Linked DNA regions of Homo sapiens: region 2 is linked to region 1. Evidence: fine-mapped expression QTL. Tissue or cell type: whole blood. Region 1 holds a variant in brackets; the other region holds the start of a gene. All regions are shown on one strand. Distances are between the middles of the regions.

What was found. PIP is the estimated chance that this variant, and not a neighbour inherited with it, causes the effect.
Region 2: TMEM187 starts here. The variant in region 1 is fine-mapped to the expression of TMEM187 in whole blood (TOPMed, PIP above 0.99). The same link has a PIP of 0.9 or more in blood mononuclear cells.

What each region holds. Positions count from the first base shown.
Region 1 is chrX:153,940,765-153,948,764 of GRCh38, forward strand. It overlaps RENBP (renin binding protein), which reads right to left and starts at 3,879. Exons shown (of 11, transcript NM_002910.6): 1 at 3,820-3,879; 2 at 3,545-3,654; 3 at 3,316-3,391; 4 at 3,131-3,206; 5 at 2,782-2,954; 6 at 2,091-2,315; 7 at 1,186-1,267; 8 at 714-889. The coding sequence starts at 3,846. HCFC1 (host cell factor C1) reads right to left here. Exons shown (of 26, transcript NM_005334.3): 26 at 6,793-8,000. RefSeq lists enhancers at 3,722-3,851, 4,031-4,794, 6,961-7,500 and a silencer at 4,062-4,121. The variant T/A (reference allele first, on the strand shown) is at 4,465.
Region 2 is chrX:153,968,821-153,976,820 of GRCh38, forward strand. It overlaps TMEM187 (transmembrane protein 187), which reads left to right and starts at 3,934. Exons shown (of 2, transcript NM_003492.3): 1 at 3,934-4,040. It overlaps HCFC1 (host cell factor C1), which reads right to left and starts at 2,998. Exons shown (of 26, transcript NM_005334.3): 1 at 1,828-2,998. The coding sequence starts at 2,020. HCFC1-AS1 (HCFC1 antisense RNA 1) reads left to right here. Exons shown (of 3, transcript NR_046608.3): 1 at 1-250; 2 at 379-551; 3 at 965-1,271. RefSeq lists silencers at 404-582, 3,079-3,318, 3,549-3,998, 4,109-4,218 and enhancers at 1,369-1,608, 1,598-2,447, 2,089-2,848.

The DNA of each region.
Region 1 (8,000 bases):
GAAGTTACCCTATATGGTCTAAAAAGGGGAGGCATGAATAATCCACCCCTTGTTTAGCATATCATCAAGAAATAAGCATAAAAATGGGCAACCAGCCGGGTGCGGTGGCTCACGCCTATAATCCCAGCACTTTGGGAGGCTGAGGCGGGCGGATCACCTGAGGTCGGGAGTTCGAGACCAGCCTGACCAACATGGAGAAACCCCGTCTCTACTAAAAATACAAAATTAGCCAGGCATGGTGGCCCATGCCTGTAATCCTAGCTACTCGGGAGGCTAGGGCAGGAGAATCGCTTGAACCCGGGAAGCAGAGGTTGTGGTGAGCCGAGATGGCGCCATTGCACTCCAGCCTGGGCAGCAAGAGCAAAACTCCACCTCAAAAAAAAAAAAAAAAAAAAAAAAAAAGGCAACCAGCAGCCCTCAGGGCTGCTCTGCCTATGGAGTAACCATTCTTTTATTCCTTTACTTTCTTAATAAACTTGCTTTCACTTTGCATTGCGGACTCGCCCTGAATTCTTTCTTGGGCAAGATCCAAGAACCCTCCCTCTTCTGGGGTCTGGATCACGACCCCTTTCCTGTAACACTGGCACAGAAGCTGAGAGCAGGCCTCTAGGTTCCAATCCAGCCCCAGGTTACCCTCTAGAGAAGCAACCACCTCCCTGGGCAGAAAGCCTTAGAACAGCGTGGGTCACACATGGCCCTGGGCGCTCTCCCACCTGGGTGGGGCAGAAGTTATCAGCATCCTGGAAGTAAAAGAGGCCTCCGTGGTCAGGGTCCCATCCGGAGTGGAAGGGCAACAATAGGAACTTGTCAATCACGTGGGCTCGAAGTTCGGGGTCGCCTTTCCGAATGCAATGACGGAGCAGAAACCAGCCGGCTTCCAGCGTGTGGCCTGGTGAGGGGTGGAGTACGGAAGGGCGGGGGGCGGGGGGTGGGGTTGAGGGAGGGAACAGAGGGAGCAAAAGCCCCTGGCACCTCTCTGCTCCCTCCCTAACAATGAGCGAGGCTCTGAGCTCCCTGGCCCTGGAAGCCTGCTCCTCTGCAGAAACCCCCAGCCTTGGGAAGCCCATCCTCGCTCCTCTGCCTCCTCAAGGCGCCCCCGCCAGGCACTCCCATATCTGAAGCCCAGAACACAAGGCTCAGCGCTCCCCTCCTCCTGGGTGGCCCCCAGCCCACCCCGCCCCTCACCTGGGTTCTGCTGTCTCCCCAGGCAGCCAGGAAGTTCCTTGCCACCCTCTGACACATTCTCCAGCACAGCTTGTCCATCCCTCTACCGGGAAGGAGCAGAAGGGAATGTTGCCTCCAGCCCTTTCACCCACCCAGCCACCCAACTAGAAAGACCCAGCTCCGGAAAGCCCTTCCTCCCTCCCTCTTACCCAAGCCCCTGGACCTGCTGGCTTGGGTGGGCCAGGCTCAGAGGGGCATTTAAGGAGGGGCTGATTCACTCCCTTGGGCCTAGCAAGTTGTTGTTTTTTTTTTTTTTTTTTTTTTTTAGACAGAGTCTTGCTCTGTCACCCAGGCTAAAGTGCAGTGGCCGCAATCTCGACTCACTACAATCTCCACCTCCTGGGTTCATGCGATTCTCCTGCCTCAGCCTCCCTAGAGGCTGGGATTACAGGCATGCACCACCATGCCCAGCTAATTTTTGTATTTTTAGTAGAGACGGGGTTTCACTATATTGGCCAGGCTGGTCTCCAACTCCTGACCTCAGGTGATCCGCCCGCCTCAGCCTCCCAAACTGCTGGGATTACAGGCACGAGCCACCGCGTCCAGCCCGGGCCTAGGAAGATGTAATCCTCACTTCTGGCCTGATCCTCTCCAGCAGGGGAGGGTGAAACATTGAATGGGGACAGACAGGGCGGGTTTCACGGCCCAGAGGCCTGGAAGGGACTTGGGTGGGGCAGGAGGGGTCTCCTTCTGTCAGGGCTTGCCTGGGGCTCCGCATCCTCCCTCCAGCCCTCAGGCCCTCCACCTTCCCCAGGTGGGGACATCCCCGAATCTCTGTCTCTCCAGGTGTGTCGAGCCCCAGGGTGCCCAGGGGAGTGGGGGAGTGGAAGGCCTCCCACCACCCCAGCTCCCCAGGCATCCCCCACCTGCACGTGCTGCAGAATCCTCCGGGCGCACCAGTCCCCCAGCTCTGCGTATTTGCCCGCCAGCTCCTCATCTGCCTCCCCGAGCTGCTCCACCAGGTTCAGTAGCATCATGGGCACCGCCATGGGCTCCGCAGCCGGGGCCCCCTGGAGCTGGGGCCGGCCCAGTCCCGACGCGTCCTCCTGCACCCAGTGGACGATCTGATCCATCATCTCCACCGCTTCCGTCTGGGGGTGCAGGAGGCAAGGGGAGGCCCAGGCTGAGGCTACATCCTGTGCCATCCCCCTGGACACGGCCCTGGGGTGGGAGAGCCAATTCCTCTCCTGAACCCAGAGACACCTTCATCCAGGGCCTACTTGGGGCCTGGCACCCAGCGTCCAGTAGGGGCCAGTCAGATCCGCCCCACTCTGCTCCCAGTCTGGGGGTGCAGCCCCTTCCAGGCTGTGGGGTCAGGGTCTGGCAGCACAGGGAGCCCAGGGAGGAGGGAAGGGCCTTTTCCCAGTTGGGGGCAGGGCGTGGATAGGGCCCTCTCCGTCTGCGCCCCTGTGGGGGTAGGGGAGCGTTCAGAGGTGAAGGGGACTTGGCCCACAGATGGGTCCATGGGAGGGGACTTGCGTAGTGAGTGGGAATGCATCAGGTGGCCATGGCAGGGTCGCAGGGTGGGGTCTTCAGGGGCACCCTCCTCTCACACACCTGGTACCGCACTTCCCCTGTGGCTCTCCACAGCTCGTTCATGGCCATGGTGTAGAAACACTCACTGAAGATGGTTCGCTGCACCTTGACCGGGCGGCCGTCCCGAGTCAGCACAAAGGCACACTTCTTGCCAGGAGGTGCCACCCGGGCATACCGCAGCAAGAACTCACCACCTGGAGGTTGGGGGGTTGGCATGCCAGGGGTAAGGCCAGGACGCCCCGCACACACCACCCTTGAGCCTCCCCAAGTCCTTCGCTGCTTCTAGATCCCTCTAGGAACTCCGCACATGTGCCCTGTTGAGTAAACATGGACGGAGTCACTGGGAGATGGGCAGGAAGGGGGCACCTACCTGCTTTTGCTGCGTCCAGAAGCTGAGCATGGCGGAAGCGCTCGAAAGTGCGGTACAGGCGACAATACATCCATACCTGCGGGGTACGGGAGGGAAAGTGGCTTAAGTGGCCGGCTGGGGTGAGGTGGGGAGACCTTTGAGGCGATGGGCCGTGTGCCTGAGCTTCCAGGCTGGGAACACCATACCTGCCTCCCCTGCAGCCACACATACTTGAGGTCATCATACACCCGCCCCTCGCGGCCAAGGCACGTGAAGAAGCCCCTGTGGGAAGGCAGGGTTAGCAAAGTCTGGAACGGGCCTTGCCAGCCCCTCCTGCCCCTCTGGGGCCAGCAAATCTGTGAGGTGCCTGAGAGTGAGAAGGGGCCTCAGGAAGGGCAAAAACCCTGCTGAGGACTCCAGAAGCACGCCGAGTACCCGTGCTCCTGGTCGTGGGAGTGCTCCATCCAGAAAGCCACCACGCGGTCCAGCTCCTGCCCCACGCGCTCCTTCCAGGCCTGCAGAGTCTCTCGCTCTTTCTCCATGTCCTAGGGGAAATGGGGCTTGAAGGCGCAGCCCCCACATGGGACCTAGGCCCCCCCAGCCTCGGGAACCAGCCCTCAGGGATCTCCCCACCTCTGCACGGGGCTTCAGACGTCACCATCCCCGGGACCCTCCAAGACAGCACTCCCCCCAAGCACCCCACCACTGGCCTGTCGCGCTGGGAGACCCTTGCTCATCCCTCCTGCTCCTCTAGGAAGCCAGACAGAGTTGGTCGCGGTCCCGTGACTGTCACTCAGCTGACACAGCCGCGCCCGGCTCACCCTCCCCCTCCTCTTCAGGGTTCCGCTGGGCCTGGGGCGGGGCTTTGAGCCCGACCCCCGCACTTGTTCCTGCCGCGACCCTCCACTCGAATGGGCCAGTCCCTCCAGGGCCCCTGCTGGGAGCTCTGGTCTCAAGATCCTGCTTGGTGGGAAAAGCTGGGATGGCCGGAGGGTCTGGGATGAGGGGGAACGGGGCTGCCACCCACCCCGCCCTACACCAGGGGCCCCGGCAGGGCGGCTGAGGGCCTTGGCCCTACCAAGCCTGTGGGGCAGGGGTGCAGCAGGACAGGGAACAGCTAGTGGGCCTGAATGCAGAGGTCCCTCTGACCTGTCACCACACAGGGTAGACAGGAGGCAAGTTCTGTTTTTGTTGTTGTTGTTGTTGTTTGTTTCTTTGTTTTTTGAGACAGTGTCCTGTCGCCCAGGCAGCTCACTGCAGCCTTGACCTGCCAGGCTCAAGCGATCCTCCCACCTCAGCCTCCTGAGTAGGTGGGACCACAGGTGTGGGCCACCATGCCTGGCTAATTTTTGTAT[T/A]TTTAGTGGAGACAGGGTTTTGCAATGTTGCCCAGGCTGGTCTCGAACTCCTAAGCTCAAGCGATCCTCCTGCGTCAGCCTCCCAAAGTGCTGGGATTACAGGCGTGAGCCACCGCACCCAGCCTAGCAAGTCCTCTCTTTTGAATCAGTTTGTCACCAACTACCTCAACAGTCAGTAATGGGCAGCCATTGGCGCTAATTTTTTTTTTTTTTTTCCCAAGATGGGGTCTTGCTCTGTCGCCCAGGCTGGAGTGCAGTGGCATGATCTTGGCTCACTATAACCTCCGCTTCCCGGGTTTAAGCAATTCTCCTGCCTCGGCCTCTGGAGTAGCTGGGATTACAGGTGCCTGCCACCATGCCTAGCTAATTTTTTTTTTTTTTTTTTTTTTTTTTTTAGTAGACGGTTTTTCACCATGTTGGCCAGGCTGGTCTCAAATTCTTGACCTCGTGATCCACCTGCCTCGGCCTCCCAAAGTGTTGGTATTACAGGTGTGAGCCACCGCGCTCGGCCTTGGCACTGACTTCTTTACACAAGTGACACAGCTCTAAGGCCAGACAGTAACTGCAGGTAACAGCCCACACCCCCCTTCTCTGGGCCTGTTTTCCAGCTGCCCAGATCTGTCTGTAGCTCTATGACTGACCCGATGATGCTACAAGGCAGCTGGGCTGAGGTGGTTCCTACCTTCCAGGCCAACAGTGCACAAAATGGGTTCCAGCCTCTGGGCGTGGGTACTGCACTGCTGGTCTTTGATGCCACAGTGGCTGTCTCAGTCCCTGCTGCAGGCTGACCCACCCAACCCCAAACAGTTCCCCTTTGGGGTGCTTGGTAATGAGGCTGATGCCCTGGCAGCTGGGGAGGCATCCTCTGTGTGCTCCCACCCACCCTCGGCCTCGGCTCATGCTCAGGGGATGAGCTTTGTGCCCAGCCGGGCTGTATCTACCTGCCCTGCTCACAGGCCTGTCATGTTCACATTCATGTCCAGCCTCCCTCCTGCCTCCCCAGACTGAGTGGTGCCCTCAGACGGAAACGCGGTATTTTCAGATAAACACCAGAGGCATGACTGATGTGGCCCTTGCCTTGTGGAGTGTGATGCAGCCGCGGTGAGACAAGTGAGCTGAAGGAATGCGGAGGGTGGGTAGCCCCACAGGTGCCAGCTACAGAAGTGGGGTAGGAAGAAGCCTTGTACCACCCCCACCAGGCGAAGCGCCCACAACGCCATTTGCCAAAGGTATGGCAAATCCGCAAGGCCCCTCGGTTCTGGGGCCAGCCCCATGTGGCCCCTGGCCTCCACCAGCCCCAGCCATGACTCCTACCGCTCTGCTCTGAAGGACACTTTCCCACCCCTCTCCTTGGGCCTCTGCGAGGCTAGGCTCCAAGGCAGGTCACAGTTGGTGCGGTGGGTAAGACAGAGCCATGGCTCCTGGTGTCAAGCCCTGGCCAGTCTGCTTCCCCCCACCCCCACATGACACAGCAGACCCCACAGGACAGAGGCTTCCCAGAAGAGGTCGCATTCGACAGGGCCTTGCACACACACCCATGCCACAGGTGGAGACACGGAGGCTTTGGTTACTCCAGGAGCTTCTGGTAGCGGAGTGCCTGGGTGCTCTGAGAGGAAGGCTGGGCAGTAGAGGTGTGTAGGGGAAACAAAGGCAGGCGGCAGGGGCTTGGAGGGGGCGGGGAATGCAGGTGCGCCAGGAGCACCAGGCCCCAGAAGCAGGGTGTCACTCCCCTCAGACCCGCCTAGGCCTGTGCTGCTCCGGCCACCTTGCCCCGGAGCTTTCTGGGCCTCCTGGTACAAATTCAGCCCACGGGATCCCAGCTGTCCTACCGACCCAGCTGCTAGGTGGTCAGTCTGGATCACAAGCTCTTGCTTCTTCCCCTTGGGGGCATGGCTCACATTTAAGAGGAAGCCAGAGGAAGGGATCCACCTCTGCAGTACCCGTGGTGTACTTGACTCAGCCCACCTCCCCCCAACCCACCCAAGGAGGCTGCCGCTGGTGACCTGCCAGGCCCTTGCCCCATCCTATCCTCTAGTGCAGGAGGGGAGGGAGGGAGATCTGGGCCCCAGACACAGGAAGTCAGCAGCAGCTGCCCAAGGGGCTCTTTGGCCCTTGCCCTGCAAGGCAGCTACCAAGCAACCTGCTGGACCCTGGTCCGACTTGGTCCAAAGACCGGAGGCCACAGCAGAGGCCTCACTCTGGGGCCTTCTACGCTTTCACCAGAGCTCAGGTCTCCCTCCAGGGGGCTCCCGTGAGCCTCGGGCAGGTCTCAGCCTTCCCGCTCAGGCTTCCTGAGAGGATGCCGGGACACAGTGAGACACCTAGTGGTTATTTCAAAAAAAGTCTTTTAATTGTTCAAAATAGCACAAAACGACATCGCACTATGGTAATATTGAGTCACAGGGGTTACTCTACAATAGTGAACGGTGTACTCTCCTCAGAAACAAATCAATAGGCGCGCGAGAGAAGGGATGGGGTAAAACAACAGGACCAGGTGAGTGGGCTCCAAGGTGACTAAACGTGACATTTTCCACAGCGAAATATACTATAATACAACAAACCAGAGGCCCTGGAGGACACAGGCTGCTGCGTCTCCAGGCAGAGGTCGGTAGGGGAGGGCTGGAAAGATTGGCTGCTCGGTTCAAATCCTTCTGACTTGCTGGCAAGCCTTGCTCCTCGACAGAAGTTTGGGGTGGGGGGCAGAAAACTCCAAGCAGATCCCCCAGCCTCGGAGCCTGGCCTGAGTTCCATGCTGCACAGCTGCTGCTGGTGGCCTGCTCCATTGCCCTAGCCTCCCTTGTGGGTGACACTACACAGTCACCCTCCCAAGCTGCCTCCAAGGACGCCTGGTTCCCCTCCATTCTCCACCCTTTCCATGACGATTTGGGGGAGGTGGAGCAGTGGCTGCGGAAACCAGCAGCCCTGTTTGGGAGGCGGTGCCGGTGGTGCTCAGGGAGGGGGCATGGGGAGAGCTGGAAATCCAGGACAAGGAGGCCCCAGCCCTCCCTCAAGCTCCCCTAGGCTCGACCCTATAGATGCGGAGTGATCGCCCATGAGGAATGAGCTGTCCTTCCTTTGTTCCAGCGGCCTGAGGACAGGCAAAAGGGCAGAGGGCAGGGGCCAGCAACAGGAAGTTGGGCTGGGTGGCAAACAGCAGGCCCCTCGTGGCAGATTTCACACCTCTCCTGCCCTGGCTGGCCCCAGCTTTTCCTCCAGAAAGATCCCTGCCAAGAATTAGCCAAGAAGAAAAAAGTAAAAAAACAAAAACAAAACAAAACAAAACAAAAAAAAGAGAAAAGAAAAAAGATTACACATTCTGTACACAGCTAACAACAACAAAAAAGGGACAAAACCCCACACGCTAAAATTACAATGAAAGTGTGAACTTCACCAATTGCAACCTAAAAAACACAACAAATGCAGCAGTTGGCAGTGCGGCCTGCAGGGAGGTCTGCACAGGCGCTGCCCAGGCCGCCGCGGGGCTCCTTGCCCCTTTTTTCTTTTTCCTTCTTTTCTTTTTTAAAATGGGAAAGAAG
Region 2 (8,000 bases), 28 kb after region 1:
CAGAGTGGAGAAGGTGCTGCTCATGGTGACGGTGCCTCTATAAACAGCCCCACCACTGGAGAAGCCTTAGCTTACTGAGCTAATTCCTGCTACTGCAGCTGCCTGGGCTGGCGCGGGGCACCACCAACCACCAAGCGCCCCCGCCCGGGGGCTGCTGAGAAAGGCCCTGCTCCCTGGAGGCAACAGGTGCTGAGAGACCTGGAACGAAAAACGGTCACAGACAACCCACCAGCCTTTCAAAGTCAACGTGGTAGGTGGCGATAATCTCCGAGATGTGGAGAAACCAGCACTTTCTGCCTTGGGGGGTGGGGAAGGAAGCGGCACCCAAGAGCCCAGCTCCAGCCTTCCCAACTCCCTAAACCAACTTTCTCCCTCCAGGCAGCTCCAGCTTCCCACCCCCAGAGCATCGAGGCACTGGAGCTCAGCCAAAGAACAGCAGCCTCTCACCGCTCAGGACACAAAGCCCACTCAGCGAGGGTTTGTCTGCAGGGCCACCACCGAGGCCAGGGGATCGCTAGAGCCCCCAGGAGAGAACGGCCGCGGAGCAAGGGGTTAGTGCTGGGAGCCGTGCCTGCCACTCAGGACTAGGGCATCCCAAGGCCCTCCCCCAGCCGCCTGCAGGGGGCTTTTCCCTCACCCAGACTCTTCCAGCTCTTGCCTGGGACCGAACTCACCCTGACCCTGCCTTCTGGGCAAGGCCAGGGTCCTGTGGGCCAACGGGCAGTCAGTAGGCAACTTGGGAACTGACCCTTGTGCTAGGGGCACAAAACGGGCCAAGTAGCCACCAAGAAAAAGGATGCCACAAAGCTGTCGTGGACAGCAGCAGGCTTTCTGCCCTAGAGACTAAGCAAGGCTACTAGGCAGAGGCAACAACAAACGGCCCCCACGAAGGCCGTGGTGCATCAGCCATACCTGAAGAGAGAGGTTCCTCCCCTTCCCAACTAACGGGCTTTGGGTTTTGCAGGGAGGCAGAAGAGCGGGTGGGGTAACCCCCTGGATCCGCAGAAGCGGGGAGACACACGACTACGCAGGCCGCTGAGGGGTAACTGGAATTCAGCTTGTAAACCAGAAGGCACCAGATTAGGAGAAGGGGCGACTTGGAAAGAAATGCTGCAGAAGTAAACGTGGAAAGGGAGAGGCGGCCCTGCCGCCGGCCCGTCCTAGGGGTCCCCAAGGCTCCGGCATTACCCGGGTCGGCGGATGTTAAACTCTGCGTCCTAAGAGCGCTTCCCTTCCCTCCCTTTTTCGAGAGACAGAGAACGAATCTGTAATCTAGAAATGGTCATTTCTCCAGAATGGGCACTCGAGATGAGGGAGAGCTGAGCAGGCGCAGGAGAAGGGAGGGAGGGAGGGAGGGGAGCTCTGCCTGCGCCAAGGGGACACATCCGCCCGCCCCAGCCCCAGCCCCAGCCCGCTGGGTAACGGTGTGGGTCTGAAGTCACCACCGCTGGCGACAGCCCCTCTCCCTCACCAGTCGGACTAGGGGCTTTCTTTTAACTAACGAAAACCAATCCTCAAACACGGGAGAGACAAGGGAACGGGGAGAAGATCAGAGAAAAGCACTGAAGCCCGGCACAGCAAAGGGGAGGGGCAAGCCGATCAGTGGGGAGGGAGGGGGAGGAGGGGAGAAGGGGGAGGGGGACGGGGAGAGGGGAGAAGGACGGGTAAGGGAGGAGGGGAGAGAGAGAGGGAAGGGTAGAGGGTGAGGGAGGAGATGGAGGGAGGGAGGAGAGGGAGGGAGCAGATGGAGGGAGGGAGGAAAGAGGAGGGAGAGGGAGGAGATGGAGGGAGGGAAAGAGCCGAAGACCCAGCGGGCTTTGCACTCACCCGTGTTGTACACGTGCAGTTCGTCCACTATTCCCTCGTTGCCGCCGCCAAACACCACGATGAGCTCCTTGATGGCCACGGCGCGGTGGCCGTGGCGGGGCCGTGGCACCGGACCCGACCAGCCCACCACTCGCTTCCAGCGGGGCTGCAGAAGCACCGCTGGCAAGTTGGCGGGCGACACGGCCGAAGCCATAGTTCCGGGAAAGGGTGCGGTGGGGAGAAGTCAACAAGCGGGAAGGGAGCCCCTCAATTCCTTTCACACACCCCCTTTCGTCTAAGGCAGCTCTCACGGAGAAGCGGTTTCTCACACAGCGGTAGACGACTCCATGGAGGCCGCCATCTTAACTGCCCTCCTTCCCTTTGGCTCTTCCCTTTCTTCTCGCTCACCCCGTCTCCGCAAGAGCCGCCCGAAACTGTCGAGCGCCTAGGCTCAAGAAGCTGGAGGCCGCTGAGTCCCGTCGCCCCGACTACTTGTCCGGGCGCTCCCGCTTACAAGCTCGGGCGGGAGGCCCTGGGAGCCGCCATCTTGAGCCGCCTCTCTCTCCTCCCTTCCTCAGTCGTAGCCCTCCCCCGCCGGAAATGGCGGAGCCCCGGCCCGGTTCCCACACCCCCAAGTCCCCAGCACTGGCCGGCTTCCGGGGCGGGTGGAAAGGAGCCACAAGCGCCGCGGTCGTCGCAGCCCCGCCGGCGCTCAGACCACAATTGTGGGAGCCGCCATCTTGAGACCGTCCCGCTTCCCCGCCCAGCGCCTTAGTGCAGCCGCCGCTCCCGAAACAGCCTCGACACACCTAACGAATGGAGGCGGGCCGGAGGCCGGTGGAACCAGCTCGAGCTCTCGAGGGCCGTTTGGGGGCTCGCGCCGTACGGCTTGTGAAGTCTCGCGCCTCTCCCCTTAGTCCGCCTCTGCTGCTCAGGCTGCGCCTGCCGCCGTGGGAGCCGCCATCTTGAGACTAGCTCCCCGTTCCCCCCTATTCTCTTCCTCCTAGGTCAGTTCTTCCACTGCACACCAAACTCAAGGCGGTGTCCGATCCTCACTTCCCGCCTTATGACTCCTTCCCACAGGAGCCGCTTCAAAGAGCTAGAGTTAGGCCCCGAAGCGGCAACTGTACGGCAGAAGAAGCGGTAACGGCAGGGCGCTCATGCCTCCTCCCTGGGAGCCGCCATCTTGTGTGAAGAAGTAACAACTAAACATGGCGGCAGCGGCGCCGGCGGTCGGGCGAGGAGGCGGAGCCGGGTGACGTCACCGCTTCCCCCCACTCGCCCTCGCACCGCTTCGCCCCTGGGCCCAAGCCTCTTAAAGGACCCCTGCGCTGCCTCGCGGCGGGGGTGGGGGTCGGCGCTGCCGCGCGCTGGGCTAAAGCTCGAGTCGCGCTCAGATCAGGTGCAGGCGCAGGCGCGCCCCGCCCCACGGCCCCCCCACCGGGCGAGCCTCCACGCCTCCGCCCTGGGAGCCGCCATCTTGCCACTTCCCCTCGCCCGGCCGTCCGCGGGCGTCAATAGCGACTTTCAGCACAAAACAAAGATGGCGGCGGCGGCATCTCGGAAATGCCCGGATGAGACTGCTAACCCCTCCGACGCGCTCGGCCCCGCCCCCTTGGGAACGGTCTCTCGGGTTGATAAGGGACGCACGCCCGAAGAACTGCCTTTAACCAGCACTGGGGACAGCGGCACGCAGGTGGCCGGGGTTGGCGAACAGCCACTGCAGCCGCGCCTGCGGCCGGGAAGCGAGCATTTTCGCGCCCTGCACACCCAGCAGCCGCAGGAGGCGGCCCGAGGCGCGCCGCGGGGGAGCCGGGGGCGGGGCGACAGTGGGAGGCGACGCAGCCGAGCGCCGGCGCCCGGGGGTGGAGCCTCCGCCCGCTCCCAGGCTCCCAGGCTGCGGGGCCCGCCCTCGGGCGCCACCGCCTCCGCCCGCGCCGCAGCAAAATGAGCCGGGCCGCGCGCCCCAGACCGCCGCGCGCTCGGCCGCCCCCACTGCCGAGAGGCCCGCAGTCGGGCCGGTGGCGCACGAGCCGGGCGGGCGACCGCGGGAGGCGTCCGCGTCATCTCGCGTCACCTCGCCCCGCCCGCTTCCCAGGCTTCGAGTCCCGCCCTGCGCGCAGGCGCACCGGCGCTGCTCGGATCCTCCCTTTTCGGAGATTTGAATTTCCCCCAGCGAGGCGAGTGAGGCGAAATACCCGTATGGTGATAGCTGGCCTTTTCGCGCCAATACTGTAAGTGCTCACCGCAGCCCTGGGAGGTGGGTCCCGGCCTCGCCCCCACGTTTCGCCTCCTCTAGGAGGCCGCCCGGGCGCGGCGGCGGCGGCGGCGGCGGCGGCATCCGCCCTGCCACGCGCAGGCCGCAGCGCGGGGACCCAAGCTGCTGCCCGGGAGCGGCAGTCGCCAGTAGAAATGGACAGACCGGTCCTGTCAGAGCCTGTGGCTTTTGTTGTAAACGTCTAGAAGTTCAGTTAAATTACAAGATCTACCAGATCTACCGGCGGGCAGAATTATTACTTTGAAGTTACTGAAGTTATGCGTCCTGCTGGAAGACCTTGTAATTTAATGCGTTAGTAAAGAAGCACACGTCACCCTCTCACACATTTTCAACAATATTTTTAAAGTCGCCTCTCAACATATTACATGTATTTTGTAATCGTCTGTGTTTTAGTTCATGCAGTTGGAAGTATCCATTTGAGAAGGGACAAAGAGAAGAATTCTTGCCTGTCTGTGCCACCACCTGCTCTTTGTGACCTTGGCTAGTTACCTCACATATGTCCCCAAGTCCCCCACCCATGGTAAATAAGAAAACTAAGGCCTGATGCGTTGGCTCATGCCTGTAATCCCAACACTTTGGAAGGCTGAGGTGGGAGGATTGCTTGAGCCTAGCCGGGGCAACATAGCGAGACCCGGAGGCATGGTGGCACACGCCTGTGGTCCCAGGTACTTGGAACGCTGAGGTGGGAGGATGGCTTGAGCCAGGGAGTTCAGGGCTGCAGTGAGCTGAGATCGCGCCACTGCTCCAGCCTGGGCGACAGAGCAAGACCCTGTCTCAAAAACACACACACACACACACACACACACAAAAGCAGCTGCTGGTTTCCAAGGGCCTTGCCTGGAATCAGTCCAGAAGCTAAATTAATGTTAATTGATATTCCTTTATCCACAGAAAGACAGCAAGAAAGGTCATGCGGAGCGGGGGACATAACTAACCATAAATGCTAAAGGCCTGGAGGTGACAGTGCCTGCTGTTTAAACGCGTGCGGGAGAGTCTGGGGCCTTTAGCCAGGAGATTGTCAGGCTTCCCAGGGCTTCCCTGAAAGACCCCAGACCCAGGGGCCAGTGCTGTTGAGGTGTTGGCTTTCCCATGCCAGGCGCTGGGGGAAGCTGTGACGAGATTTGAGTGTCACATAATAAGGATCATGGCAATTCAAAGGTACAGGGAAGCTAGGCTATAAGGTAACCAGCTCGGTTTTCCTGGGGGTCTTGGACAGGTGCTTTGATTACATGGTCACTGTCAGCCCGTACCCCCGGTCAGATAGACTGAACCCCTGCAGCCGGAAAGAGGAGTTGCTTTCCATGCCCTTCCTGGAGTTCTTCCTCGATCAAGTTGACAGTGTTTGACTCTTGTTCCAGCTCTCCGCCCTGCTTGCTGGCAGGCAGGAGGGTCAGACTAGCATGGGTGCCATGGGGCCCTAGGTGGGTGCAGGGAAGGACCTGTAGACGCCATGCGGGGCCTCAGCTGGTGTCTCAGCTGGAGTCAGGAGCTGAACGGGGAAGTGCCTGAGAGGAAATGACAGCTGAGTCAAGGGCAATGGCCAGGCGAAGTGGGCAAAGGGCTTCCAGGACAGAGCTGGGCCTGAGGAGCTCACAGGGCTGGATGGGGATGGCACTTTAAGTCTGGCCAAGACTTTGGGACATGATCCAGGACATGGAATGGGAAGCTGGTCATGGAAGGGTGGAAAGCCAGGGCAGACATGATCCCATCCAGGGCTGCTCAAAGATGCTGGGGCTGCGGTGTGCACACCCCTGGACCCAGAGGCTTTTTTGACTGGGAGGACGGGGCAGGAGGAGTTCGGGTGCCCCATGCTGAGATGGCAGGCTTGTGTGAAGCAAGGACGTATGGAGTGATAGTGAGGACTGTGGTTCCTGTGTGGCAACACCATGCTTCAGAGGGCAATGGGGCACCCACATGCCAAGCCTGGTGGCCCTCCTCAGCAACGGAACTCCAAGGCAAGAAGGCTGAGAATGAGGCCCAGGAGGATGCGGTGGGCCCCAGGACCTGCTTGAGAAGTGAAATAGCAAACAGGACTGGTAAAAGGGAGCAGAGGTGCTGGCTTTGTTCTTTAATATAATTGAATTGAAATTGAGCAGGGCTTCACTGGGCATCTGAGGAAGAGCAAGGAATCAGACCCTGTCCCACCCATTTGGGGCCTAAATTGCAGTAGGGCAGATGGACATTGCACCTCAAAAATAAACAGTGCTTGTCACATGAATCATTTGCAAATATTTTCTCCTATATTGTCTCTTCATTGTTGATTGCTTCTGTGCTGTGCAAAAGCTTTTTACTTTAATATACTCCCATTTGTCTGTTTTTGTTTTTGTTGCCTGTGATTTTGGGGTCTTAGCCATAAAATCTTTCCTGGAGCATTTCCCCATTTTCTTCTAGTAGTTTTATTTTATTTATTTTATTATTTGTATTTATTTATTTATTTATTTTTTGAGACACAGTCTCACTCTGAAACCCAGGCTGGAGTGCAGTGGCACAATCTTGGCTCACTGCAACCTTAGCCTCCTGGGATCAAGCGATTCTCCTGCCACACCCTCACAAGTAGCTGGGATTACAGGCGCATGCCACCACCCTGGCTAATTTTTATACTTTTAGTAGAGATGGGGTTTCACCATGTTGGACAGGCTGGGCTGGAACTCCTGACCTCAGGTGATCTGCCCGCCTCAGCCTCCCAGTGTGCTGGGATTACAGGTGTGAGCCACCACACCCAGCCTTTTTTTTTTTTTTTTTTTTTTTTTTTTTTTAAAGACAGAGTCTTGCTCTGTCGCCCCAGGCTGGAGTGCAGTGGTGTGATCTTGGCTCACTGCAACCTCCTCCTCTTGGGTTCAAGCATTTCTCCTGCCCCAGCCCCCTGAGTAACTGGGATTACAGATGTGCGCCACCACGCCCGGCTACTTTTTGTATTTTTAGTAGAGACGGGGTTGCACTGTGTTGGCCAGGCTGGTCTAGAACTCCTGACCTTAAGTGATCTGCCCGCCTCAACCTCCCAGTGTGCTGGGATTACAGGTGTGAGCCACCGCGCTGGCCTCTTCTAGTAGCTTTATAGTTTCAGGTCTTACTTTTAAGTCTTTAATCCATGTTGAGTTGATTACTGTGTGTGGTGAGAGATAGGGGCCTAGTTTTCATTCTTCTTCACATACTTATCCAATTTTCCCAGTGCCATTTATTGAAGAGACCATCCTTTCCCCAATGTAGGTTCTTCGTGCCTTTGTACTACTTATAATAGCTAAGATATGGAAGCAATCTAAGTGTCCACCAGTGGATTGATATGTAAAGAAAATGTGGTATAGATACATGATGGAATATTATTGAGCCATTTAAAAATAAACTGTTGGCGGGCGCGGTGTTTCAAGCCTGTAATCCCAGTACTTTGGGAGGCCAAGACGGCCAGATCACCTGAGATCAGGAGTTCGAGACCAGCCTGGCCAACATGGCGAAACCCCATCTCTACCAAAAATACAAGAATTAGCCAGGTGTGGTGGCAGGCGCCTATAATCCCAGCTACTTGGGAGGCTGAGGCAGGAGAATTGCTTGAACCTGGGAGACGCAGGCTGTGGTGAGCCGAGATTGTGCCACTGCACTCCAGCCTGGGTGACAGAGCGAGACCCTGTCTCAAAAAAAACCAAAACCAACTATAAAAAATAAAAAAAATAAAAAACTATTGGCTGGGTGCAGTAACTCACGCCTGTAATCCCAGCACTTTGGGAGGCCAAGGTGAGAGGGTCGCTTGAGCCTAGGAGTTTGAGACCAGTCTGGGCAACATAGCAAGACCCTGTCTTTCAAAAAAAATTTAAAAATTTGCCAGGCATGGTAACATGCCTGTGGTCCCATTTACCTGGGAGGCTGAAGTGAGAGGACCACTTGAGCCTGGGAGGTGGAGGCTGCAGTGAGCTGCAATCACACC